7 linked regions of the Homo sapiens genome follow. The protein of the gene in region 1 purifies or fractionates together with the protein of each later gene. This does not show direct contact. Each region holds a gene or a part of one and is shown in the gene's direction. Other genes may lie near its edges. The genes, in order: DNAAF8, PBX1, MEIS2, RNF138, NFKBIL1, OBSL1 and NAMPT.

What was found.
Region 2: the proteins of DNAAF8 (region 1) and PBX1 purify together in Homo sapiens (affinity purification with mass spectrometry; 2 studies listed by BioGRID and IntAct, with this or other methods). This does not show direct contact.
Region 3: the proteins of DNAAF8 (region 1) and MEIS2 purify together in Homo sapiens (affinity purification with mass spectrometry; 2 studies listed by BioGRID and IntAct, with this or other methods). This does not show direct contact.
Region 4: the proteins of DNAAF8 (region 1) and RNF138 purify together in Homo sapiens (affinity purification with mass spectrometry; 2 studies listed by BioGRID and IntAct, with this or other methods). This does not show direct contact.
Region 5: the proteins of DNAAF8 (region 1) and NFKBIL1 purify together in Homo sapiens (affinity purification with mass spectrometry; one large-scale study listed by BioGRID and IntAct). This does not show direct contact.
Region 6: the proteins of DNAAF8 (region 1) and OBSL1 purify together in Homo sapiens (affinity purification with mass spectrometry; 2 studies listed by BioGRID and IntAct, with this or other methods). This does not show direct contact.
Region 7: the proteins of DNAAF8 (region 1) and NAMPT purify together in Homo sapiens (affinity purification with mass spectrometry; one large-scale study listed by BioGRID and IntAct). This does not show direct contact.

Annotation. Positions count from the first base shown.
Region 1 is NC_000016.10:4,737,537-4,741,036, forward strand, and holds part of DNAAF8 (dynein axonemal assembly factor 8), read left to right. Parts: intron 1-263; coding exon 264-410; intron 411-2,616; coding exon 2,617-3,123; intron 3,124-3,500. UniProt on the Homo sapiens protein: In cyliated cells, dynein axonemal particle-specific protein required for deployment of ODA to the axoneme. Interacts with outer dynein arm (ODA) subunits.
Region 2 is NC_000001.11:164,789,684-164,793,183, forward strand, and holds part of PBX1 (pre-B-cell leukemia transcription factor 1), read left to right. Parts: intron 1-2,810; coding exon 2,811-3,055; intron 3,056-3,500. UniProt on the Homo sapiens protein: Transcription factor which binds the DNA sequence 5'-TGATTGAT-3' as part of a heterodimer with HOX proteins such as HOXA1, HOXA5, HOXB7 and HOXB8. Binds to the DNA sequence 5'-TGATTGAC-3' in complex with a nuclear factor which is not a class I HOX protein.
Region 3 is NC_000015.10:36,888,704-36,891,626, reverse strand, and holds the end of MEIS2 (homeobox protein Meis2), read left to right. Parts: 3' UTR 1-2,423; downstream 2,424-2,923. UniProt on the Homo sapiens protein: Involved in transcriptional regulation. Binds to HOX or PBX proteins to form dimers, or to a DNA-bound dimer of PBX and HOX proteins and thought to have a role in stabilization of the homeoprotein-DNA complex.
Region 4 is NC_000018.10:32,108,874-32,112,373, forward strand, and holds part of RNF138 (E3 ubiquitin-protein ligase RNF138), read left to right. Parts: intron 1-2,880; coding exon 2,881-3,046; intron 3,047-3,500. UniProt on the Homo sapiens protein: E3 ubiquitin-protein ligase involved in DNA damage response by promoting DNA resection and homologous recombination.
Region 5 is NC_000006.12:31,550,608-31,554,107, forward strand, and holds part of NFKBIL1 (NF-kappa-B inhibitor-like protein 1), read left to right. Parts: intron 1-3,500. UniProt on the Homo sapiens protein: Involved in the regulation of innate immune response. Acts as negative regulator of Toll-like receptor and interferon-regulatory factor (IRF) signaling pathways.
Region 6 is NC_000002.12:219,565,040-219,568,539, reverse strand, and holds part of OBSL1 (obscurin-like protein 1 isoform 1 precursor), read left to right. Parts: intron 1-215; coding exon 216-485; intron 486-570; coding exon 571-822; intron 823-964; coding exon 965-1,267; intron 1,268-1,413; coding exon 1,414-1,710; intron 1,711-3,025; coding exon 3,026-3,298; intron 3,299-3,500. UniProt on the Homo sapiens protein: Core component of the 3M complex, a complex required to regulate microtubule dynamics and genome integrity. It is unclear how the 3M complex regulates microtubules, it could act by controlling the level of a microtubule stabilizer.
Region 7 is NC_000007.14:106,271,484-106,274,983, reverse strand, and holds part of NAMPT (nicotinamide phosphoribosyltransferase precursor), read left to right. Parts: coding exon 1-38; intron 39-2,325; coding exon 2,326-2,454; intron 2,455-3,500.

The DNA of each region.
Region 1 (3,500 bases):
CAGAACCAGGAGCCCCAGTCTCACCTCCACGAGGTTGTGCTGCCAAGCCCATTTCTAAACGGTGGCAAGAAGCCGCGCACAGCAAGGCTGACTGGGAGAGAACCGGATCTCCCCCAGGCTCCTGAGCAGCAGGGCTGGACGGGCTGGATGGGCTGGGCGGGCTGGGCTGGAAGTGAGAGTGGAGAGTGGAGAGCGGGGGTGGCTAGGCCCTCAGGGCTCTGCCTGCTGCCTTGTCCTCCAAAAGCCCTCTCATTTGTCCACAGTCGGACTATGGGGAAGAGGAGCTGTTCATCTTCCAGCGAAACCAAACCTCCCTGATTCCAGACCTGTCGGAGGAGCTGGCTGAAGATCCTGCCGATGGCGACAAGTCCAGGGCCTGGGTCGCTGCAGCTGAAGAGTCCCTTCCCGAGGTCTGTGGGACACAGAAGAGTATACGCCTGTGTGTGTGCGATGTTAGTCTAAACTGACTGGTCTAAACCACTGTTCTAGCATTTCCACGATATGCTAGAACATGGTCCTTTTTTTTTTCCCCCATGTACAACCCAAGGTATTCAGATGCCCAACATCTAACCTCCACGCACCTCCCTCTCCTGGGGAGCCCGGCACCTTAGGGCTGGCATGCACGCTTGATTTTCCATCCGATTTTGACCCTTCTCTTCTTCTTGATCGCTCCTATCCTGTTCTCTACCATGGCATCCTGAATAGCTTCTGGCCATTGTCACAACTGCTTGTCCTAATTGTCTCTCCCTTAACCCAGCTGGCTTCATGGCTACCTGGCTCATCCCAGCACCTGGCGAGTACACAGGAACTCTGGTTTACTAAACTGCTAAACTACACTGCTACAGGCTACAGTGGGGAGTGGGAGGGAGGAAGATGGCCCATCAGTGCCTGAGCAAGCACACAAGCTGGACCTCGTGGGAGGGACAACCCAGGAGACAATGAGCAAATGTGGACTAAGCGTGCCAACGCAGGCCTGTGTTGCCAGTGCTGGAGGCTGAGACAGAGGTTCCCATGAGGCCAGGAGTTTGAGACCAGCCTGGGCAATACAGCAAGACCCCATTTCTGGCTGAGCACAGTGGCTCACGCCTGTAATCCCAGCATTTTAGGAGGCCAGTATGGGTGGATCACTTGAAGTCAGGAGTTTGAGACCAGCCTGGCCAACATGGTGAAACCCTATCTCTACTAAAAATAAAAAAATTAGCTGGGCATGGTGGCAGGTGCCTGTAATCGCAGCTACTCCAGAGGCTGAGACAGGAGAATCGCTTGGACCCGGGGGAGCAGAGATGGCAGTGAGCCAAGATCACACCACTGCACACTCCAGCCTGGGCAACAGAGTGAGACTCCATCTAAAAAAAAAATAATAATAAAGAAAAGAAAACAGTGTAGAGGCACTAACCCACTTCCAAAATGGAGACGGGGCCTAGCTCCAGCGTAACTTCTCTCAGGTGTTCTGCTGAGAACAATTAACCTACTGAATGGGAGGGCATGGGCACCGAACCAGATCATCTCCCAGAACCAGGACATGCACCCACCCATCACCTTGAAGGAAATCTCCCATCAGCCCAGCCATTCCTAGACCTAGGTTTGAAATAACCCCACACAAGAGAGATCCCCAGGGCAGCTAAGAACTCTGGTGGGTTCAGGTGGAACAATTTGCATGTGATTTTATTTTGCTGCTTCATTTTTACAATCAATTACTTCAGAAACTCTTCTGGATGATTTTTTCTTGTTTTTTTTTTTTTTTTTTTTTGTAATGTGGGATCTCTACTAAAAAATTAGCTGGGTGTGATGGTGTGCCTGTGGTCCCAGCTACTCAGGATGCTGAGGTGGAAGGATGACTTGTACTCTAGCTTGGGGTATGAATTTCTGAGCCCCAACATTATCATGATTGATAATTTAAATATTGTTTCATTGCTGTAACAGTGCATTCCACTCTAGCCTTGTATTTAAATAGCAGGATGCCTCAGTGGTGCTGTCTTTAGCCAGCCCATATTCAACAGTAGCTTTCCAACTTTTTTTTTTTTTTTTTTGGGACAGGATCTTGCTGTGTCACCCAGGCTGGAATACAATGGTGCCCTCACTGCTCACTGCAGCCTCCACCTCCCGGGCTGAAGCGATCCTCCCACTTCAGCCTCCCAAGTAGCTGGGATTACACGCACGCCACTGTGCTGGCTCATTTTTGTATTTTTAGTAGAATGAAGTGTGCAGTTAAAAATGGTTAAAAGAGGTCAGGCACAGTGGCTTGTGCCTGTAATCCCACCACTTTGGGAGGCTGAGGCAGGAAAGATAGCTTGAGGCCAGGAACTTGAGACAAGCCTGGAAGACCAACTATGTTGTAGAGACTCTGTCACTACAAAATAATATTAAAAAAAATTAACTGGGCCTAGTAGTATGTGCCTGTCATCCTAGCTACTTGGGAGGCTGAAGTGGGAGGATCGCCTGGGCCAGGGAAGTCGAGGCTGCAGTGAGCTATGATCGCACCACTGCACTGCAGCCTGGGCAACAAAGCGAGACTTCACCTCAAAAAAAAAAAAAAAGTACATATTTTTCTATGAAAAACATTCCCTGAAGCATGTTTTTGAGGATGCTAACTGAACATACCTGTTTTCTTGACAGCCAGTTCTGGTGCCTGCAGAATTGGCCACAGAACCTGGGTGCAGACAGAACACAAGGACAAAGGATGCATCCTCTCAGGAAGGAAGAGACCCTGGCAGGCCTTTTGAAAGCTCTGGTGAGGTCAGCGCTCTTCTTGGGATGGCCGAGGAGCCCCCCAGGTGGCTGGAAGGCGACCTTGGAAGCCTGTCTTTCAACACCAAAGGATCCCAGGGTCCTCCCTGGGACCCACAGGCCGAAGCCACTCTCTCCTGCCATGAAGGAGACCCAAAGGCAGAGCCCCTCAGCACTGCCTCACAAGAATCTGTGAACCGCCGGGCCCTCCGACAGGAGAGAAGGAAGATGATAGAGACGGACATCCTCCAGAAAGTCACCCGGGATGCCTGCGGCCCGACCAGCAGTGACAAAGGTGGGGTGAAGGAGGCGCCCTGCCACGCTGCGGAGTCAGCTCCCAGATCCAAAATGCCCCTCGTGGAGCCTCCGGAGGGACCACCAGTGCTCTCGCTCCAGGTAGGCGCCTCCCCGTGCCTGGCTGTTTCTCAGGCCTGTTACCTGTGGCATGGCTGCTGTTCCCATGCACTGGAGCTAGAAGCAGCTTGAGGGCTGGCCCACTAGGACCTTAGGCCCATTATCCACCATTCTGTGTACCTGTCTCAGTAGAGGGGTGGAGGGTCCCAGCAGAGCACATCCTGGGGGAGGGTTAACAAGAACAAAGAACAAGCAGGGCCTGCCTTCCTTAAAGAGAGAAAAGGAGGCCAGGCACAGCGGCTCGCACCTGTAATCCCAGCACTTTGGGAGGCCGAGGCGGGAGCCCCGGAGTTCAAGACCATCCTGGTCAACACAGTGAGACCCTCATCTCTAAAAAAAAAAGAAATCATCCTGGCTAA
Region 2 (3,500 bases), on another chromosome or scaffold:
GTCCTAAAATCTCTCAGTGTTGGGCCGCATGCAGGACCAGTTGGGTGTGGAGTAGCCAGGTGGACCCACTTGAAGGCATTAACACCCAGCTGAAGGGTTACCAGCCTCAGCTTCGTGGGGAATGTTCCTGCCAGCCGTGGGGGCTTACGGCCTCTTCTGAAGGAAGTATATTGGACATGAGATTCAGTGAGCGAATGAGAGAGTAGAATTTTGCCCCAGCACAATGTTTTGAATAATCGAGCTAAAGTGAAACAACTATATTTATTAATGGCTCAGAGGCGATTCTTTTTTTTTTCTAATTTGTAAATGACCCATAAATTTCTTTGTGGATAAGGCTATTAAAATTTATCATATAAAGAGAAACAACCACATAGAGGTGAAGGAGAGGCTGCTGGGCGCTGCTGCCAGATGTTTGGATGCCCCGAGATTCTTTTCGGTGCCTTTAGGGCCTGGTATTCAGGGCATGGTTACAGCAGCCATCTACTTTCTTAAGGAAACCTTTGTTAGTGGCAATTTGTTCTTCAGAGTGCTTCGGAGATTTAAGTAAATAAATTTAAGAAACAATAACGTGACTAAATCCTTATTGTGCAAAGATCAGCCAAAGGAGCAGTTTCCCATTCAGTCTCCTGAGCCTACAAAGGAAGGATTTTATTGGAAAAAAAAGTCCACAAAATAAACCTCAATGACCTCCTAACCTTTTGCCGTCACCACTATGGCAATTTTGTTTTTGTGTAGCAGAATATTACATATTCAGGTTTGAAGAGAGAAGATCATGACGTGGTAGTGTTGTGGTTTGCGTCTAGGGTGCAGGCTTCCTTCTTTTCTCCTTCCCAGCTACCTGCTCTCCCTCCTCCCTCCCTCCTTTCCTTCCTCTCATCCTTTTTTACTTCACCACGGAGCCCAAGCTTCTGCCCTGCACCTTTTGTCCTCTTTGCTCTTTATGGCCACCACTGATCCACATGGCTCGCCATTCCATTTGATGGTCTCGTGTTTTGTGAGAGCCATACTGTAGTTTTCCTTTTGGCCTAGGAATTGGGATTTCCTTCTGAACAACGTTCAGGGTTGGTTCTTTTGCTGCCTGTTGGCAGCCAGGAGCATGTGGGCACAGCCAGCAGTTATGCTGGTATTATATGTGATGACGCTCAAACATCTAGACATACCCTCATTGAGCTCATCTTCACCTTCCCTGTTACAACCCGAAGCCCTGCTTTGCCAGGGCTGGGAGACACCTGGAACTGGCACTGTCCCCCTGGGGCTCACCAGATGCACTCTGCCATGAAAACAGCTCTTGACTGTGCTCTGGTGTGTGGATATCCACCAGGGACTTAGACCCTGCCACCTCCATCCCCAAAATGTCAACCAACACCGGACCCCTCTCCTCTGCCTTTAATCACTTCCCTCTTTCCCACCCTACCCACACATTCTTTTCAATTTCTTAAAAATTGAAAACACTTTTTATGTTCCCTCTTAACAAAGACTTGGCTGCTGACAACTGAACTGGATTTAGATGAGTGATTTATTTTATGGGAGGTTGTCTGAAGGGGTAGTAAAAAAGACTGTCTCGCTCTTCTGCTGATTTACTAAATCACTGGATCTCCTTCAGTCCAAATCACCACCAAGGGTCCTGGTGTTTTCATAAAGATCAGCCATCTCATTGATCTGAGACGCCATCCTACCAGAGCACTGGCTTCCCTGAAACCCTGGAGACAGCTTGTTAAAAGGACCTCACCCTTGTTTCCAACAGGACAGAGTCCTTATCACTCGGAACACATAGATCTCAATGTTTGGAGCTAAACGACCCTGCTCAAGGGCCAATTTGTCTTCTTGCTATGTTAGACCTCACTCTCTGCTAGTCCACAGGAAAGGTCTGAAGATTTCGTTCCACATGTACTGGATTTGTGTACTTCAGGTGATTTTGGAAATGAAAAATTTAGACTGATCAAGCATTGCAAAGAAAGGCAATGAGTGCACAACCACAGACTTATGGAAATTTAAAAGGAGAAATAAAGAGGGAAATGCTTTTCCTTAAATTGAAATTAGGTAGTATGGGGATGAAAGTAAAAAATATATTTTGTTATGATTACATTTTTCTAGTTGAAATTTTTTATTGTGGTAAAATATATATAAGATAGAATTTACCTTTTTGGGGGGTGGGGGTGTGGAGTCTTGCTCTGTTGCCCAGGCTGGAGTGCAATGAGTGGCGTGATCTCAGCTCACTGCAGCCTCCGCCTCCTGGGTTCAAGGGATTCCCCTGCCTCAGCCTCCCGAGTAGCTGGGACTACAGGCACGCACCACCACGCCTGGCTAATTTTTTGTATTTTAGTAGAGACGGGGTTTCACCATGTTTGCCAGGATGGTCTCGATCTCCTGACCTCGTGATCAACCCCCCACTCAGCCTCCCAAAGTGCCGAATTTACCATTTTAAACTATTTTTAAGTGTACAGTTGAGTATTATTTTGCAGCCATCTCAAAAACTCAGCTTCCCAAAGTGAAATTCTGCGCTCATTAAACAATAGCTCCCCACTCCTCCCCACAACTCATGGTACCCATTATTCTACTTTCTGCCTCTTATAAATTTGATTATTCGAGATTCCACATACAAGTGGAGTGTAATTTTGGAACAAAGCAAGTCCCTCCTTCATTTTCTCACCCTCTCAGTTTCTCTCTTTTTCCAGCCTTTCTTCTATTCCTCAAATGGCATCTTGCAAGTAACTTGGCAGCTTATGTAGCCAAAGAACACAAATGTGTTGTGTTTTTTATTTTCTTTCTTGGGTTACTATTAACGCTCCCTTCCCTGTCTTTTTCTGTAGTTTTGAGTATCCGAGGAGCCCAGGAGGAGGAACCCACAGACCCCCAGCTGATGCGGCTGGACAACATGCTGTTAGCGGAAGGCGTGGCGGGGCCTGAGAAGGGCGGAGGGTCGGCGGCAGCGGCGGCAGCGGCGGCGGCTTCTGGAGGGGCAGGTTCAGACAACTCAGTGGAGCATTCAGATTACAGAGCCAAACTCTCACAGATCAGACAAATCTACCATACGGAGCTGGAGAAATACGAGCAGGTAACCAGAACCACCTGGGGCTCGGCACCCAGGCCCTTTAGGAAAGGGTGGAGGAAGCACAACCCCGGGGCTTGCAGAGAGGAGCGGCTCACCTTTCCCAGGTGCTGGCATCCCTGTGCCCGGCATCCCCTGCCCAGCCACAGAGCCCTGGCCAAACTTGAGTCTGCCAAGTCCTGGTCTCAACTGTTAAAAACCTAGGCATTCAATGGAGGTAAAGGCATTAAAAAATGTGTGACGCTGTAAATGATTTCAAGGAAACATAAATCGTGCATAGAAGGAACACTCCATACCTGGACTCCAGAACGTGTGTCTGTGATGTGCAGGCCTGGCTCTCATCCGGGCGCTATAGGTGATCAGCAGAGTCACCAGCTAACCTGCAAGAAGGTGGGAGGTTTTCTCTGGCCCTTGTTTTTCCTTATTTATCAGGAGGCCTATACTTTTTCTG
Region 3 (2,923 bases), on another chromosome or scaffold:
GCCTTTGTTCCTCCATAAATGTGTCCTTTAGTTTCAAACAGATCTTTATAGTTCGTGCTTCATAAGCCAATTCTTATTATTATTTTTGGGGGACTCTTCTTCAAAGAGCTTGCCAATGAAGATTTAAAGACAGAGCAGGAGCTTCTTCCAGGAGTTCTGAGCCTTGGTTGTGGACAAAACAATCTTAAGTTGGGCAGCTTTCCTCAACACAAAAAAAAGTTATTAATGGTCATTGAACCATAACTAGGACTTTATCAGAAACTCAAAGCTTGGGGGATAAAAAGGAGCAAGAGAATACTGTAACAAACTTCGTACAGAGTTCGGTCTATTAATTGTTTCATGTTAGATATTCTATGTGTTTACCTCAATTGAAAAAAAAAAGAATGTTTTTGCTAGTATCAGATCTGCTGTGGAATTGGTATTGTATGTCCATGAATTCTTCTTTTCTCAGCACGTGTTCCTCACTAGAAGAAAATGCTGTTACCTTTAAGCTTTGTCAAATTTACATTAAAATACTTGTATGAGGACTGTGACGTTATGTTAAAAAAAAAAAGGTGTTAAGTCACAAAAAGCGGTAATAAATATTTCATTTTTGATTTTTTGTTAGGCTTTTGCGTTTTTAATGGTTTTAGGACAAGACTGCACAATGCCAACTCTATACAGTGTTAAAAGTAGGTTTTTCCCCCCAGCAGTTGAGTATATTTTAAACTCATCAATAATTTTTAAGGTAATCATCTATAGCCTTTCAATGTCTATTTGACCTATAAGTTCCACCAGCAGAAAACTTCTAAAGGTACGAAACTATGTGTACATGATGAGCCAGGTTGAAAGATCCCCTTGAACATGCTCAACCTCCTTTTTAGATGCATGACGTTAAAAAATATATACTTTCAGATAAAGCTTTTCATGGGCATCCTCTGCCAGAATAAAGGACTTTTCAGGGTTAATTTTACAACATAAGAAATAATGTCTGTGCTCAAAGGTAATTTATCTGCCTGTGTTTTTCCTCTGCCTGTCTTACTACAATATTGTTGGATATGTAAATGAAAATTTACATATGGGTGTTCATAGATAAGTAAACAACTTCTATGGAGTTTGAAATTCTGACTTTAAAAGATTACTTAATCATTAATATTTTATAAATTATATTGTGGTATATTTTTATTTCAGACACATCCATGTGCAGGGATGCTAGTGTGATGATTTGATAACTAAACTTAAACTTTTTTCTGAAAACAAAACAAAACAAAATGGACGGTATAATGCCATTTTCAAAATTTTATGCAACATTCCTGGAAATCTATACCATTAGCTTATTGATACTGCACAAACAATGTCTGCTAAAGTGTGCAAAAAGGGTGAGGCATGTCCCCTCAATTTTCAAATAAATATACTATCCTGGAATTTTTTAACTCTTAAATTTTGAATCTTTGTTTAGAAAGAATAATGTCATATACTTTGGCTAGATATGTGATGTCAACCGGCTAAGGAAATTATTCATCATCTCTGCAAACTTAAACTTGGAAGAAATCCATAGTTATTATTTGGGGCTCTTCCATCTTTCCATTTCAGACAGCATTTATGGAGGTTCTATATAAATGAACGAGGAAATACACTTCTATTGTTTTGTGTTATATTTAGTCAGGTAGAATTTTTACAAATACATTTCAGTTTAAGTGTTGTGTTGCTGTTTAAACATAGAAATAATGCTTCTGACACAAACTAACTTAATAGAGAAATTCAGTGCCACTTGGGAAAGAGAGATAGCTTCCCTCTCATTTTTGCTATTCTATTTTACATGAAGTCTTTTTGTAAATTTTAAATATTTGCCTATTTTTACTTTAAATACTTTTATGTAAACTATGAAAATTCCCCATTATAAATCAACTCTCACATCAGGTGGGAAAAAGAACCTTTTTTTCTTTCCACTCAGTAAATTCTGAAGGGTTTCCTTGGCAATTGGCTCGTGTTTAGGATGTGTTTTATGCAATTATCAAGTTATCTCATTGAAGTTTAGAGACCAGAGCTCTCAACTCTTGGTTTTAATGAATAAAGTCATCTCATGCTTAGTTTATTCGTCAAACCCACGTCCTATCATGTTAACTTTAACCTTCTTAAATATTTGGAGATGAATGATAATTGTAATATTTGTTTGCATTACCTTGCTCTCCCCCACCCCCAACCCCATGATAACACAGAGAAGTGATAGATTTGTCCAATTTTTATAATGCTTTTTTTACACCACCCCGGAAGGCACTTGCTCCTATCTCGGGTTTACTATTTAGTGTAAAGAGTTCCGATTTGGGTATATTTAAGAAAGACTCAGCTGTCAAAAGCAAAGAAACTGGGAATGGTGTTTTGACAACCATATAGTGTTAAAGGAAATACTGTAGTCTGAATAAAATTGCTTATGTTCTCCAAAACAAGAGTAATATAAAAACACTTTTTTATTTATATGAAAAAGCAAAAGCAGAAATAAATTCCAAAGGTTTCCCTTTCTTTAAGAAATTCTGAGAGAACTGCAGTCGCCATCTGTTAAGGGTTGGGAATTGAGCAAGAAGCCACATTTTAAACGAAAAAGAGAGAAAAGACCAGGAAAGTCTGTGTCTTCCGTCCACCCCTCCTCTCTTCCACCCCCTAGGTCAGCACCCCTCACGCCCCTCAGCTCTCACCCTCGTTAGAGTCCACCAGGATCCTCCTGCCTCCTCACCCCCTCCCGCCCCCGCGGGCCTGTTAACCCGGAGCAGATTTGGGAAGGGAAATGTGGCTAATATCTCTAGCAGCTGTCAAAGGAGGGACCTTCCTTCAAAGGGACTGGACAGGGATCCTCCACAAGTTCTCCATTAGCTAGCAGGCCAGCAATTTGATAAGGAGCCTGGACCTCCGCTACAAGTTGCCACTCAGTTAGAAAGTCCGGTGTCCG
Region 4 (3,500 bases), on another chromosome or scaffold:
GTCTCACTATGTTGTCCAGGCTGGCCTCAAGTAATCCTCCCGCCTTGGCCTCCCAAAGTGCTGGGATTATAGGCATAAGCCACTGCCCATGGTTTTATGTATATAGGTTTGATGGGTATATACTTCAGAGTGGAATTTATGCGCTCTAATGGATATTGCCACCCAGTTTTCCAAATGGTTGTAAAAGTTTATACTCCCATAGCCTCCAATGTGAGTTTAGGTTGGTTCATATCCTCCCTAACACTTGGTATTTCCCACCGTTTTCATTTTTGTCTTTTTCTTTCTTTTTTTTTTTTTTTAAACAAGGTCTCACTCTGTTGCTCAGGCTGAAGTGCAGTGGCACGATCTCAGCTCACTGCAACCTCTGCCTCACAGGCTCAAGTGATCCTCTCACCTCAGCCTCCTGAGTAGCTGGGACTACAGGCATGTGCCACCATGCCAGGCTAGTAGAGATGGGGTTTCACCATGTTGCCCAGGCTGGTCTTGTGAGCTTAAGCCATTTGCCCCGCTCAGCCTCTCAAAGTGCAGGATTACAGGTGTGAGCCACTGTGCCTGGCCATTGTTTTATTATTACTATTTTTTTAGAGACAGGGTCATGCTGTGTTACCCAGGCGGGCCTTGAACTCATTGGCTCAAGAGACCCTCCCACCTCAGCCTCCCAAGTGGCTAAGACTACAGGTACATGCTGCTGTGCCCAGATTTGGTTACTTTTACTATTTTTAAAACTAGTTTTGCTGGGCACCATGGCTCACGCCTGTAATCCCAACACTTTGGGAGGCTGAGATGGCTGGATCACTTGAACTCAGGAGTTCAAGACTAGCCTGAGCAACTGGCAAAATCCCATCTCTACAAAAAGTACAAAAATTAGCCGTCGCAGTGGTGCATGCCTGTAGTCCCACCTACTGGGTAGGCTGAGGCAGGAAAATTACTTGAGCCCTGGAGGCAGAGGTTGCAGTGAGCCAAGATCGCACCAGTGTACTCCAGCCTGGGCGACAGAGCGAGGCTCTGTCTCAAAAAAATAAAATAAATAAAACTAGTTTTTAGTTTGGCAAGTGAAAACTGGCATCTTGTTTACTTTGCGTTATTTTGGTTTCTGGCTATGGTAAATATTTTTAATTGTTATTGTTTTTTGAGAGACAGTATTGCTCTGTCACCCAGGCTGGAATGCAGTGGCACCTTCATAGCTCACTACAGCTTCAACCTCCTGGGCTCAAGTGATCCTTCGCCTCAGCCTCCTGAGTAGCTGGGACTGGACGTGCATGCTACTATACCCAGCTAATTTTTTTTATTTTTAATTTTTGTAGAGACAGGGTCTTGCTATGTTGCCCAGGCTGGTCTTCAACTCCTTGCCTCAAGCTGTCCTCCTGCCTTGTCCTCCCAAAGCACTGGGATTATAGGCATGAGCCACTACGCCCTGCCTAATGTTTTAGTTTATGGTGTTAATTGGTAATGACTTCTAGTGCTGCTTTAATGATATTAACTACTATTTATTGAGCACTTTCCTGACCATGACAAATAATGTGTTAAGCATTTTATACTTGTTATCTATTTTAATCCTCTGAACAGCCGAATCAGTTGTAGATACTTTTATTATTTCGTGAGTGAGGAAACTGATATTAGAGGGAAAAACTGACTTGTTTAAAAGTGCTGCATAGTTAGGAAACTCAGGTTATGTGATCTGTTACTGCACCATTTCCTCTCAACTTCTGTTAGTATAGAGGAGGAATATTCATATATATTTATAGGAGATTGGATTAAATGTATATGTATTCTAGATCCCAGATATATATGTCTGTAATTTAACTGGTTCTCTTGAAAGCAAAATGATCAAATAAGGTATTTGGTGGGGCTAGAGAAGATAAAAAGATTTTAGTTTGATTCTAATTAGAAAGTTGGTTATAAATGTTTAATCTTTTTTTTTTTTTGAGACGGAGTCTTGCTCTGTCGCCCAGGCTGGAGTGCAGTGGTGCAATCTCGGCTCACTGCAACCTCTGTCTCCTGGGTTCATGCCATTCTCCTGCCTCAGCCTCCCGGGTAGCTGAAACTACAGGCGCCTGTCACCACGCCCGGCTAATTTTTTATATTTTTAGTAGAGACGAGATTTCACCGTGGTAGCCAGAATGGTCTTGATCTCCTGACCACGTGATCCGCCTGCTTCAGCGTCCCAAAGTGCTGGGATTACAGGCGTGAGCCACCGTGCCCGGCAAAGCCGGAAGTATTCTTAAGTATTTCTCAAATTATGTTCCATTGCATACTGTTTGGGAAATTTCCCTACTTCCGGACCAAATAACCAAATATCTGTTAACACGCAGATAACTTTGGGTAACACCTAACTTTGGGTAAAACCTATTAACTTTATCCTAGAACTTCCCAAACCAATTTGTGTGCTCTTTTGTAGTAGACCTGTTTATGTCTTGTGGAACAACATGTCGATATACATCAGTTTGAGACAAAAGCTTATGTTACTCATCCTTTTATTTTGTAAGGGGAGGAAATGGAGATCCAGTGTGCGTTAATTTGTTGGCCTAAGATTACACAGCTACTAAATGGCAGAGCCAGGATCCGGTTTTTCCTTTGTACCATGCTTCCTCTAGTAATATTATTAATATGTAGCATTAATATTTATTCATCATATATTATGTTAAGAAGTTGTAAAGCAGACTTGAGTGTAATTGTTCAAATATTCCCATCTAGTCCAGTTATCAGTCTTACTCTCTGATAAATACATATACAGTTACTAAACTTCTGAGATTTATGTACATATGAGTAGCCTAACTTATTTAATATGAATACATATTTATAATCACTTGTTTGTATTTAATTATAGAGATGAAGAGAGTAATTTTTTTTGTAATTAATGTGTCACAATGTTTGGTTTAGTTTCTGTAGAAAATGTTTCCTGACTGCAATGAGGGAAAGCGGAGCACATTGTCCCCTATGTCGTGGAAATGTGACTAGAAGAGAGAGAGCATGTCCTGAACGGGCCTTAGACCTTGAAAATATAATGAGGAAGTTTTCTGGTAGCTGCAGATGCTGTGCAAAACAGGTAGAGTAAATGTGACATCTCTCTTCTTTGGAAGCCAAGTTTCTACTCTGAAATTCTTATTTGAATTTTCTTGGTTGGTGTTTTTTTTTTTTTTGAAAAGATGAAAGGTATTTAGACTGGGAATTGGATAGAAAAGGCCAAAAAAAGCTGTGGTCATAGATCTTACTAGATTATAAACTTACTGAGAAATGAGACTGAAAAAAAAATCACTGAATTTCATAATACTTAGCGTGGCATTTTTCTAAAAGTAATTTCTCATTGATTACTTGCTAAAGTAACTAAATTAGCAAGCTGGCATTTAGCTCATTTAAACCCCATTCTGGTACAAATTCACCCCTTAAGTTTTTCTCATGGTAGCATCATTATTGCAGCTTTACACATAGAAATGTTACTAGTTTGGGCACATGGATTTATGTAGTTTAAGGAACTCTCTAGCTCCTCACTTTACTTATGT
Region 5 (3,500 bases), on another chromosome or scaffold:
CCCAGCTCTGCCATCAACAGGGACATGCAGCTTACCTCTGTGAGCCCAATTTGCCTCGCAAAAATGGGAGTTTTGTTTTTTGTTTTGTTTTGTTTTTTTGAGATGGAGTTTCCCTGTTGTTGCCCAGGCTAGAGTGCAATGGCGCGATTTCAGCCCACCTCAACCTCTGCCTCCTGGGTTCAAGAGATTCTCCTGCCTCAGCCTCCCAAGTAGCTGGGATTACAGGCATGCACCATCACGCCCGGCTAATTTTGTATTTTTGGTAGAGACGGTTTCTCCGTGTTGGTCAGGCTGGTCTCAAACTCCCGACCTCAGGTGACCTGCCAGCCTAGCCTCCCAAAGTGCTGGGATTACAGGCGTGAGCCACCGCGCTCAGCCAAAATGCCCCTGATAGTGTGGTAGGGATTTCCTTTATTGTTTGTTTGCTTGTTTGTTTTGAGACAGGGTCTCATTCTGTCTCCCAGCCTGGAGTGCAGTGGTGCAATCATGGCTCACTGCAGCCTCTACCTCGTGGGCTCAAGCAGTCCTCCCACCTCAGCCTCCCTAGTAGCTGGGACTACAAGCACACACCACCATGCCCAGCTAATTGTTTGTATTTTTGGTAGAGACTGTTTTGCTATGTTATCCAGGCTGTTCTGCATCTCCTGAGTTCAAACAGTCTGCCCACCTCGGCTTCCCAAAGTGCCGGGACTAGAGGCGTGAGCCACCACACCCAACTCCATTGTATTGAATTTTAAGAAGCTGGTGAGACTGATATTATCCCATTTACAGATGAGGAAAGCAGGGCCCAAAAGGTTCGGGAACTTGTCTGAAATCTCACAGCTCTCAGGTCATTGTCTTCCAAAGGGGGACCCAAGCTCAGTGCCTTCACTCCCAGACCCTGGTGTCCTCTCTGGCCTTATTTACTCCTGGTCCTCTGCCAGCCCTGCCACCAGATGGCCTTCTAACTCCTTGGTTGAAAGGCCCATCTCATTCAGCTTCCAGCTTCCTTTTTCTTTTCCTTTTGAGACGGAGTCTTGCTTTGTCGCCCAGGCTGGAGTGCAGTGGCATGATCTCGGCTCACTATAACTTCTGCTTCCTGGGTTCAAGCGATTCTCCTGCTTCAGCCTCCCAAGTAGCTGAGATTACAGGCACACACCACCATGCCCAGCTAATTTTTTTATTTTTATTTATTAATTTTTAAATTTTTATTTGTTTATTTATTTTTGAGACGGAGTCTCCCTCTGTTCCCCAGGCTGGAGTGCAGTGGCAGTATCTTGACTCACTGCCACCTCCGCCTCCTGGGTTCAAGTGATTCTCCTTCCTCAGCCTCCTGAGTAGCCGGGACTACAGGAGCCTGCCACCATGCCCGACTAACTTTTGTATTTTTAATAGAGATGGGGTTTCACCATGTTGGCCAGACTGCTCTCGAACTCCTGACCTTAGATGATCCACCTGCCTCGGCCTCCCAAAGTGCTGGGATTACAGGCATGAGCCACCATGCCCGACCTAATTTTTGTGTTTTTAGTAGAGATGGGGTTTCAACATGTTGGCCAGGCTGGTCTCAAACTCCTGACCTCAAGTGATCCACCCACCTCAGCCTCCCAAAATGTTGGGATTATAGGCATGAGCCACCGTGCCCATCCCACAGAATGTCTTTTGGTTTTGTTTTTGTTTTCTGTTTTGTTTTGTTTTGTTTTGTTTGAAAAGGAGTCTCATTCTGTCGCCCAGGCTGGAGTGCAGTGGCACAATCTCGGCTCACTGCAACCTCCACCTCCCAGGTTCAAGAGATTCTCCTGCCTCAGCCTCCCAAGTAGCTGGGACTATAGGCGTAGGGACTGTAGGCGTATGCCACCACGCCTGGCTAATTTTTTGTATTTTTAGTAGACACGGGGTTTCACCATGTTAGCCAGGATGGTCTCGATCTCTTGACCTTGTGATCTGCTCACCTCAGCCTCCCAAAGTGTTGGGATTACAGGCGTGAGCCACAGCGCCTGGCCAAAATGTTTTTATGTTTATTTTTCTTAGTATGAAACTCCAGCGTATTAAAGAGCATTGAGAACGGTTGATCTGGTAAATCGCTATAAAGGCGGCATTTCTTTTTTTTTTTTTTTTTTTTTTTTTTTGGCGAAGTGGGGGATGGAGTCTCATTCTGTCGCCCAAGCTGGAGTGCAGTAGTGTGATCTCGGCTCACTGCAAGCTCCGCTTCCCAGGTTCAAGCCATTCTCCTGCCTCAGCCTCCCAAGTAGCTGGGATTACAGGCGCCCGCCACCACGCCCAGCTAATTTTTTGTATTTTTAGTAGAGACAGGGTTTCACTGTGTTGGCCAGGCTGGTCTCGAACTCCTGACCTCATGATCCGCCCGCCTCGGCCTCCCAAAATGCTGGGATTAGAGGCGTGAGCCACCGCGCCAGGCCTAAAGGGGGCATTTCTAATACTGGAGAAAGGTGAACTTTTTTTTTTTTTTTTTTCCGAGACAGAGTCTCGCTGTGTCACCCAGGCTGGAGTGCAATGGCGCAATCTCAGCTTGCTACAACCTCCGCCTCCCGGGTTCAAGCAATTCTCCTGCCTCAGCCTCCTGAGTAGCTGGGCACCTGCCATCATGCCCAGCTAATTTTTGTATTTTTGTAGAGATGGGGGTTTCACCGTGTTGGCCAGGCTGGTCTTAAACTCCTGTCCTGACCTGAGGTGATCCACCCACCTCAGCTTCCCAAAGTGCTGGGATTACAGGCATGAGCCACTGTGCCTGACCAGGTGAACTATTTTATAAATAATATTGGAACATTTGGCTCATCTAGGGAAAAACAAGAGTCCCACCTCACACCTAATCAAAAAGTAAATTCCAGCAGATTAAATACCTGAATATGACAGGAAGGTACACACCAAATTCATGGGACAGATGGCCTGGGGAGGAATGAAACTTGGAAGGCGGTATCACGGTAAACTACCTTTATCTGTGATGATTTTATTTCCTTAAAATAAATTATACTACAAACATGACAGTACATTAACAAACCCTGTGGTAGGAATGGGGTTGTGTATTGTATTATACTTTGTATTTTTGAGAGTTTTTTAATTTCTTTTTTGTTGTTGTTGAGACAGAGTCTCACTCTGTCACCCAGGCTGGAGTCCAGTCGCGCAATCTTGGCTCACTGCAACCTCTGCCTCCCGGGTTCAAGCAGTTCTCTGCCTCAGCCTCCCAAGTAGCTGGGATTACAGGCATCCGCCACCACGTCAGGCTAATTTTTGTATTTTTAGTGGAGACGGGGTTTCACCATCTTGGCCAGACTGGTCTTGAACTCCTGACCTCATGATCCACCCACCTTGGGCTCCCAGAGTGCTGGGATTACAGGCATGAGCCACCGCGCCTGGCCGAGTTTTTTAATTTCTAAAAATAAAAATGAGTATACATCTAAAGTAGTAGAAGAAAATGCAGAGAATGTTTTATAATCTTAAAATAGAGCCTTCCTAAGAGTGAAGTGAAATAAAAAGTCAGAAAATAATATATTGATATAGATTTA
Region 6 (3,500 bases), on another chromosome or scaffold:
TTGCTTAAGGTGATGTGGCTAGTGTCAGGGCTGGATGAGAACTCAGGTCATCTTAGGAACCACCACTTCCCTTCTGGTAGTTTTCTGTGATTCCACAGTGCCCGCTGGCTCTGCATGAAGAGCACACAGCATGAGCTAATGCGCTTCTAGGTATCCTACTCCTAGTCTGGGCCTTCTCCAGAGCCCTCTCTTGTCTCTCTCTCCCCTCTCCACAGAGCCCCGCCTCCGGTTCACACGGCCCCTGCAGGACGTGGAGGGCCGTGAGCACGGGATTGCCGTGCTGGAATGTAAAGTACCCAACTCCCGCATCCCCACGGCCTGGTTCCGTGAGGACCAGCGGCTGCTGCCCTGCCGCAAGTACGAGCAGATCGAAGAGGGCACTGTCCGGCGCCTCATCATCCACAGGCTGAAGGCAGACGATGATGGTATCTACCTGTGCGAGATGCGGGGCCGGGTGCGCACCGTGGCCAACGTCACAGTCAAAGGTCAGCTGGCCCGTGGGGAAGAGGCTGAGGCGGAGGCAGGCAGGTGCTCAGATTCCAGGTTGATGGATTCCTGTCCGCATCTCAGGGCCCATCCTGAAGCGCCTGCCCCGGAAGCTCGACGTCCTGGAAGGAGAGAATGCTGTGCTGCTAGTGGAAACTCTAGAGGCCGGGGTCGAGGGACGCTGGAGCCGTGATGGGGAGGAGCTGCCGGTCATCTGCCAGAGCAGCTCAGGCCACATGCATGCCCTGGTCCTTCCAGGGGTCACCCGAGAGGATGCTGGCGAGGTCACCTTTAGCCTGGGCAACTCCCGTACCACTACGCTTCTCAGAGTAAAATGTGAGGGCAGGAAGGCCTCTGGACAGGCGAGGCAGGGCAGGAGGTTGGCCAGATGCCGGAGCTGGGTTGGTGAAGTAGATTTAAGGTGGAAGGGCTGTGGAGGCCCAAGCAAGGCCGGAACACATCCCTGCCTTGGTCTCAGGTGTCAAGCACAGTCCCCCAGGACCCCCCATATTGGCAGAGATGTTCAAGGGCCACAAGAACACGGTCCTGTTGACCTGGAAGCCTCCCGAGCCAGCTCCCGAGACCCCATTCATCTACCGGCTGGAGCGGCAGGAAGTGGGCTCTGAAGACTGGATTCAGTGCTTCAGCATCGAGAAAGCCGGAGCCGTGGAGGTGCCGGGCGACTGTGTGCCCTCCGAGGGTGACTACCGCTTCCGCATCTGCACAGTCAGCGGACATGGCCGTAGTCCCCACGTGGTGTTCCACGGTTCTGCTCACCTTGGTGAGTTGGTCCTGCCAGACCCACCCATCACTTCTCCTCCCTTCCCCAGCCCTCAGTGCTGGTCCTCTCACAGGCTTGCCATCCGCCAGCCTCTGCCCTCTGCCACACCTTCTAGTTCTGACAGCTGCACTCTGTCCCTGCCTCAGTGCCCACAGCTCGCCTGGTGGCAGGTCTGGAGGATGTGCAGGTATACGACGGGGAAGATGCCGTCTTCTCCCTCGATCTCTCCACCATCATCCAGGGTACCTGGTTCCTTAATGGGGAAGAGCTCAAGAGTAACGAGCCGGAGGGCCAGGTGGAACCTGGGGCCCTGCGGTACCGTATAGAGCAGAAGGGTCTGCAGCACAGACTCATCCTGCATGCCGTCAAGCACCAGGACAGCGGTGCCCTGGTCGGCTTCAGCTGCCCCGGCGTGCAGGACTCAGCTGCCCTCACAATCCAAGGTTGGTGCCAGTGGGGACCTGAGTGGGCAGAAAGGGTCAAGACACAGAAGTCCTGTTGGCAAAACGAGGCAGATGCTGTTTTTATTTCTTGTATCTGGGCCAGGAGAGCAAGGAGCATCCATGATGGGCTGAGGTTGAGGGCTCAGAGGTCCGGAAGGCCAATTTCAACCCACATGCAACATCCAGGGCACCCCTTGTTATCTTGATATATGTCAGCATCATATCCCAATTCTCTGGAGTGCTTTGTGGTTTACAGAATCCTGTCAGATTTGTCATCTCATTTGAAAGACACAGACCCTGGCTGCTAGTCCCTGCCTGCCTCCTGCCATGTTGTCTAATTGTTGACATTGTCATCGCAACTTTCTACGTGCCAGGCGCAGTCCTAATCACCTTACATACATTAACACAATCTTCTCAATGGCCCTATAAGATAGGTTCTTTTTTTTTTTTTGAGATAGAGTCTCACTCTGTCGCCCAGGCTGGAGTGCAATGGCGCGATCTCGGCTCACTGCAACCTCCACCTTGTGGGTTCAAGAGATTCTCCTGCCTCAGCCTCCCGAGTAGCTGGGACTACAGACATGCATCACCATGCCCGGCTTGTTTTTGTATTTTAGTAGAGATGGGGCTTCGCCATGTTGGCCAGGCTTATCTCAAACTTAAGATAGGTTCTTTTGACATTCCCATTTTATAGCTGGGGAAACAGGCAGATACGTTAAGTGACTTGCTCAAAGTACGGAGCTAATGAGCACAGGTGCTGAATTATGAACCCAGGCAGTCGGGCTCCTGATCACACTGTGCCACCTGTTGAAAGGGGGAAGGAGGGGAATGAGGCATCCCTGAGGAGAACAGCTGGAGGTGGGGCGCTCAAAGTTCAAGGATCACGCTAGCATTTGCCATGTCACCATTGCTGGAGTTTGTAAGACCAATCAAGGAATCTGTCGGCACCCATGCACGGGGTCTTGGGGTGATTCACTGTCAGCATCGCAGGCAGAGGGGCCAGGTGAGACCTGACCAGCAACCAGAGCAGCATTTCCAAAATGGGATCCCAGTTCACTGACATCAGAACCACCTGGAGGGCTGGTTTATAATGCAGATTTCCTGGCCCCTGCGTGCTTGGGAATCCAAGAATTCTGCATTTTTAGCAGGCTCCCTAGGAATTCTTATGCACAGCCAAAGCACTGCTCTTAAGGGTTGGTGTGGAAGCCTAAGCCTATTTTTAAAAACCCCAACAACAGCAGTTGTTCCCTCTGATGCATCCGACACTGAGCCCATGCACCGGAGGGAGGGGTGCTTATCTGTACTTCTCCCCACACAGAGAGCCCGGTGCACATCCTGAGCCCCCAGGACAGGGTGTCGTTGACCTTCACAACCTCAGAGCGGGTGGTGCTGACTTGTGAGCTCTCAAGGGTGGACTTCCCGGCAACCTGGTACAAGGATGGGCAGAAGGTGGAGGAGAGCGAGTTGCTGGTGGTGAAGATGGATGGGCGCAAACACCGTCTGATCCTGCCTGAGGCCAAAGTCCAGGACAGTGGCGAGTTTGAGTGCAGGACAGAAGGGGTCTCGGCCTTCTTCGGCGTCACTGTCCAAGGTCAGGAAGCATGCCAGCCTGGGCTCCTCCAGCCAAGGCTGATTGTGGGGCCGCATAAGCCATGCCCTCTGGTCTGCTGCCTACTTGGGGGAGTCCTTTACAGGGAGAGTCCAGTGGCCCAGGGGACATGTTTCAGATAACTCTGCACTTGCTTTTTTGTTTCTTGTTTTTTTTGGAGACAGGCTCTCACTCTGTTGCCCTG
Region 7 (3,500 bases), on another chromosome or scaffold:
ATGTCTTTAATGAAAAGGGATGGAACTACATTCTTGAGGTAAAAGATGGTTTCATCTTTTGATCTGTTTTGGTTTTTCTTTCAGTTCAAAACTTCTTGCAAAGGAATTTGTTTTTGTTTTGTGTTTTTTGAGAGAAAGTGTCACTCTGTCACCCAGGCTGGAGTGCAGTGGCACAATCTCGGCTCACTGCAACCTCTGCTTCCTAGGTTCAAGCTATTCTCCTGCCTTAGCCTCCTTAGTAGCTGGGACTACAGGCACGCACCACCACACCTGGCTAATTTTTGTATTTTTAGTAGAGATGGGGTTTTACTGTGTTGGCCAGGCTGGTCTCAAACTCCTGACTTCAAGTGATCTGCCCACCTTGGCCTCCCAAAGTGCTGGGATTACAGGTGTGAGCCACCATCCCCGGCCAGAATTTGAATAAGAGATTAGAGTATCATTACAGTTCTTTTTTGTTTGTGATCTGAATATAATGGCTATTTCATAGCCATTATATATCCTTTTGAAAAGTTATATTATAGCCAATATATCCTTTTGAAAAGTTAAGGTTGACATTTTATCCCTCTCCCCGCATCCCCCATGTTAAATCATTAGCATATAGAATCTACAGCAAGTCTAAGTAATTAATAAAAATGAATTATAACTTAAATAACATTTTTGAGAAAGATAATTCATTCTTGAAAATACACTATAGGTAGGAAAGGGCATGGTTATTTGGCAATTTCAAAATGTAGGTCTGTTTTCTTGACTGAAAATAGATGCTGTGAGTCTATCACTACACATAATTCTGGGAAGTTTCTCACTGTATAGTGAGAATGGCTTGGTGCTGATCCACAAAGTTGATTTTTAGTCTTGATTGTATTATATTTATATCTAGTATGTTTGAATTCATTGCCTAAATATTAAGGCACTCAAAGACATGGTAATAGAATTATAAGAGTTAAATATCCCGTGGTGGTTTCCTTTTATTACAATGATCAGTTGGGAATGGAATCTGTTGGCGTATCTTGATGTTGAGTGTTACTTTTAAGTCTCACAAACGAAAGTTTCTTACATTGAAAAGACTGTCAAACACAGAATAATTAGAAATACTTTAACTTTCATGCCTATATGACAATACTGAGCTATACTATTTGGTACTTATGGGTCTTGAAAAAGTCAGGTAAGTACTCTGTGCTGCACTTTTCCTGTATCTTAAATAAGGTCAATAGAATCTGTGAGCTATCACCTGTACTTGCTCCATTTCTCTTCTGTGAGGTTTGTTGTAAGGATAAATACAGTAATAAGTTAGGTACTATGCTTATTACTATACTGTCCAGTGGCCAGGGCAATAAGTCGTTTGATTATATGATCAGAAAATCTTGGGGAACTAAAGGTTCTCTAGAGATAATCTGGTCTAACCCCATTTTACAAACAGAATCTGAGACCGAGAGATGGCAAGTGACTAGTCCAGGGTCTCCCCGCTGCTTTTGAGTCCAAACTAGGACCTGTAGGGCAATGTTCTTTTTGCTATACACTGTGCCTCCAGTGCTTGTATTAAACAGATTTTTCTTGTATTTAATTACCTTGTCCCAAATCACATAAATAAATTATCAGGATTTCTGAAACAGCTTGCCTTCCTAGTGAAAAGTTAGGCACAGCTCTTAGCTTTAAAAGGGAGGTACAGTGTCACATAACAAATAACCTTCAGCCTAATTTTGGAGGCAATTATTACATTAAGAGGAAGTCAGTTAAGTCATACTCGAGTGTTAATTGCCAAGATTCTGTGTTTGGCCTGTCTCATAGTTTCAGGTCCACGACCAGAATAGAGGGAACCTATTTCGGTTCTTCTGCAGGGATTTCCCTAGCTCTCCTTCTCTCTCGTTTTGTTTTCTTTTGTTCTTTAATAGCAATCCTTTATCTTTCAATCTGCAGCCTTTATTTTGTGAAAATAACGAATTTAGAATAAAGGTAGTGTTCTTGGAATACTTTTAGAATATGTTGGAATAAAGTCATCCTTTCTCATTTTCTGAAAAAGCAGGGAAGAAGCAACAGTTTGGTTTTGATGAGTTTGGAATTTTCTGCCACTTGTAGTGATAAATGTTCTTAGCAGAAGCACGTGGCAGCATTAAACTTAAAAATTAATATCAGTACGTATGTTAATAATTTTAACTAGTTTTATTTTAGAAGGATAAGGATATTCTGACTAGATTACAGTAACATCTACAATTGCAATTTCTATGACAGTAAATTTAGCTTCTATAAAACGTAAAGAACCTTTAGTAAAACAGCAGGGAATTGAGTATCATCTGTTGAATAAATAAATTTATCATTTTATCCTGCCAGAAGTATGATGGGCATCTTCCAATAGAAATAAAAGCTGTTCCTGAGGGCTTTGTCATTCCCAGAGGAAATGTTCTCTTCACGGTGGAAAACACAGATCCAGAGTGTTACTGGCTTACAAATTGGATTGAGGTAAATTGTTTTTTTAATTCTTATTTAACATTAATTGAATAAAGACCATTGAACTGAGATTACAGTTTAGAATTTGTTACTAATAAAGCTATATAATCTCCTATAATTTACTTAACCTTTCCAGGCTTCAATTTCCTCATCTATAAAATGACAGACTAAATAATCTTTAAGGTTTCTTCTAGTAGAATAGAATGTTCTGAGATTTTGTTTAAATCAAATTATTGAGAGTGATTGTTTTTAAAACCTAGTTGGCTTTCATCTAATTCATTGCCATTTTAAGTGTGTATTATTTTAGAGCAAACTTAGAAAAACAGCACATTTCTAGTAACTTACGACATTCGATGAATGATAAATGTTCAAGTTAGACTAAAGGAACTTTATTCCAACTTCTAGTAACTACTTTCTTCATTTTTCTCTCATCAGTTTAGGTCTTAGGATCTACCATCTGTTACTTTTCAGTTTCTCATCTAAATAAAACAAGATCTGCTGTTCATATTGTTTAATTTCTCAGGAAGGGTACATTTTGGGCTTTGGGTTTATACTGCGAGCCTTTTTTTTGTTTTTCTTGTATGTATACCTAAGTAGTCATATGTTTTCACATGGTCAGAGTTTTGATAATAATACTCTACCTAGCTTCTGAACAGTTTAATAATAGATTTAATCCGTGAGAGGAAATACCCTCGAAAGTTACTATAGAAATAACACCTTACTATCTGGTGGCATTTACTTAGTTCTTAGAACTGACTAATTAGTTTATCGGTTAAAGTAATTTGCTATTATATTGTAAAATAGTACATTTGAGGCTCACTTATAAAAATTGGAAAACATCGAAATATAAGAGGTCCAAGAGGGTGTTTGAAACACATTTTGCTAAGTTGACAGGAAATTAATAGACTTTTTATGGGCCATTAACTAATAATACACTCAAAAAAAAGGTACAGTTAAATAAAGGTTTTAAATAGTCTATACCGTATACTAAAACTAAATTAATATTTAGGACTGAAATAACATATTGATTAAGTACCAGCTATGTACCCAAAAAATGC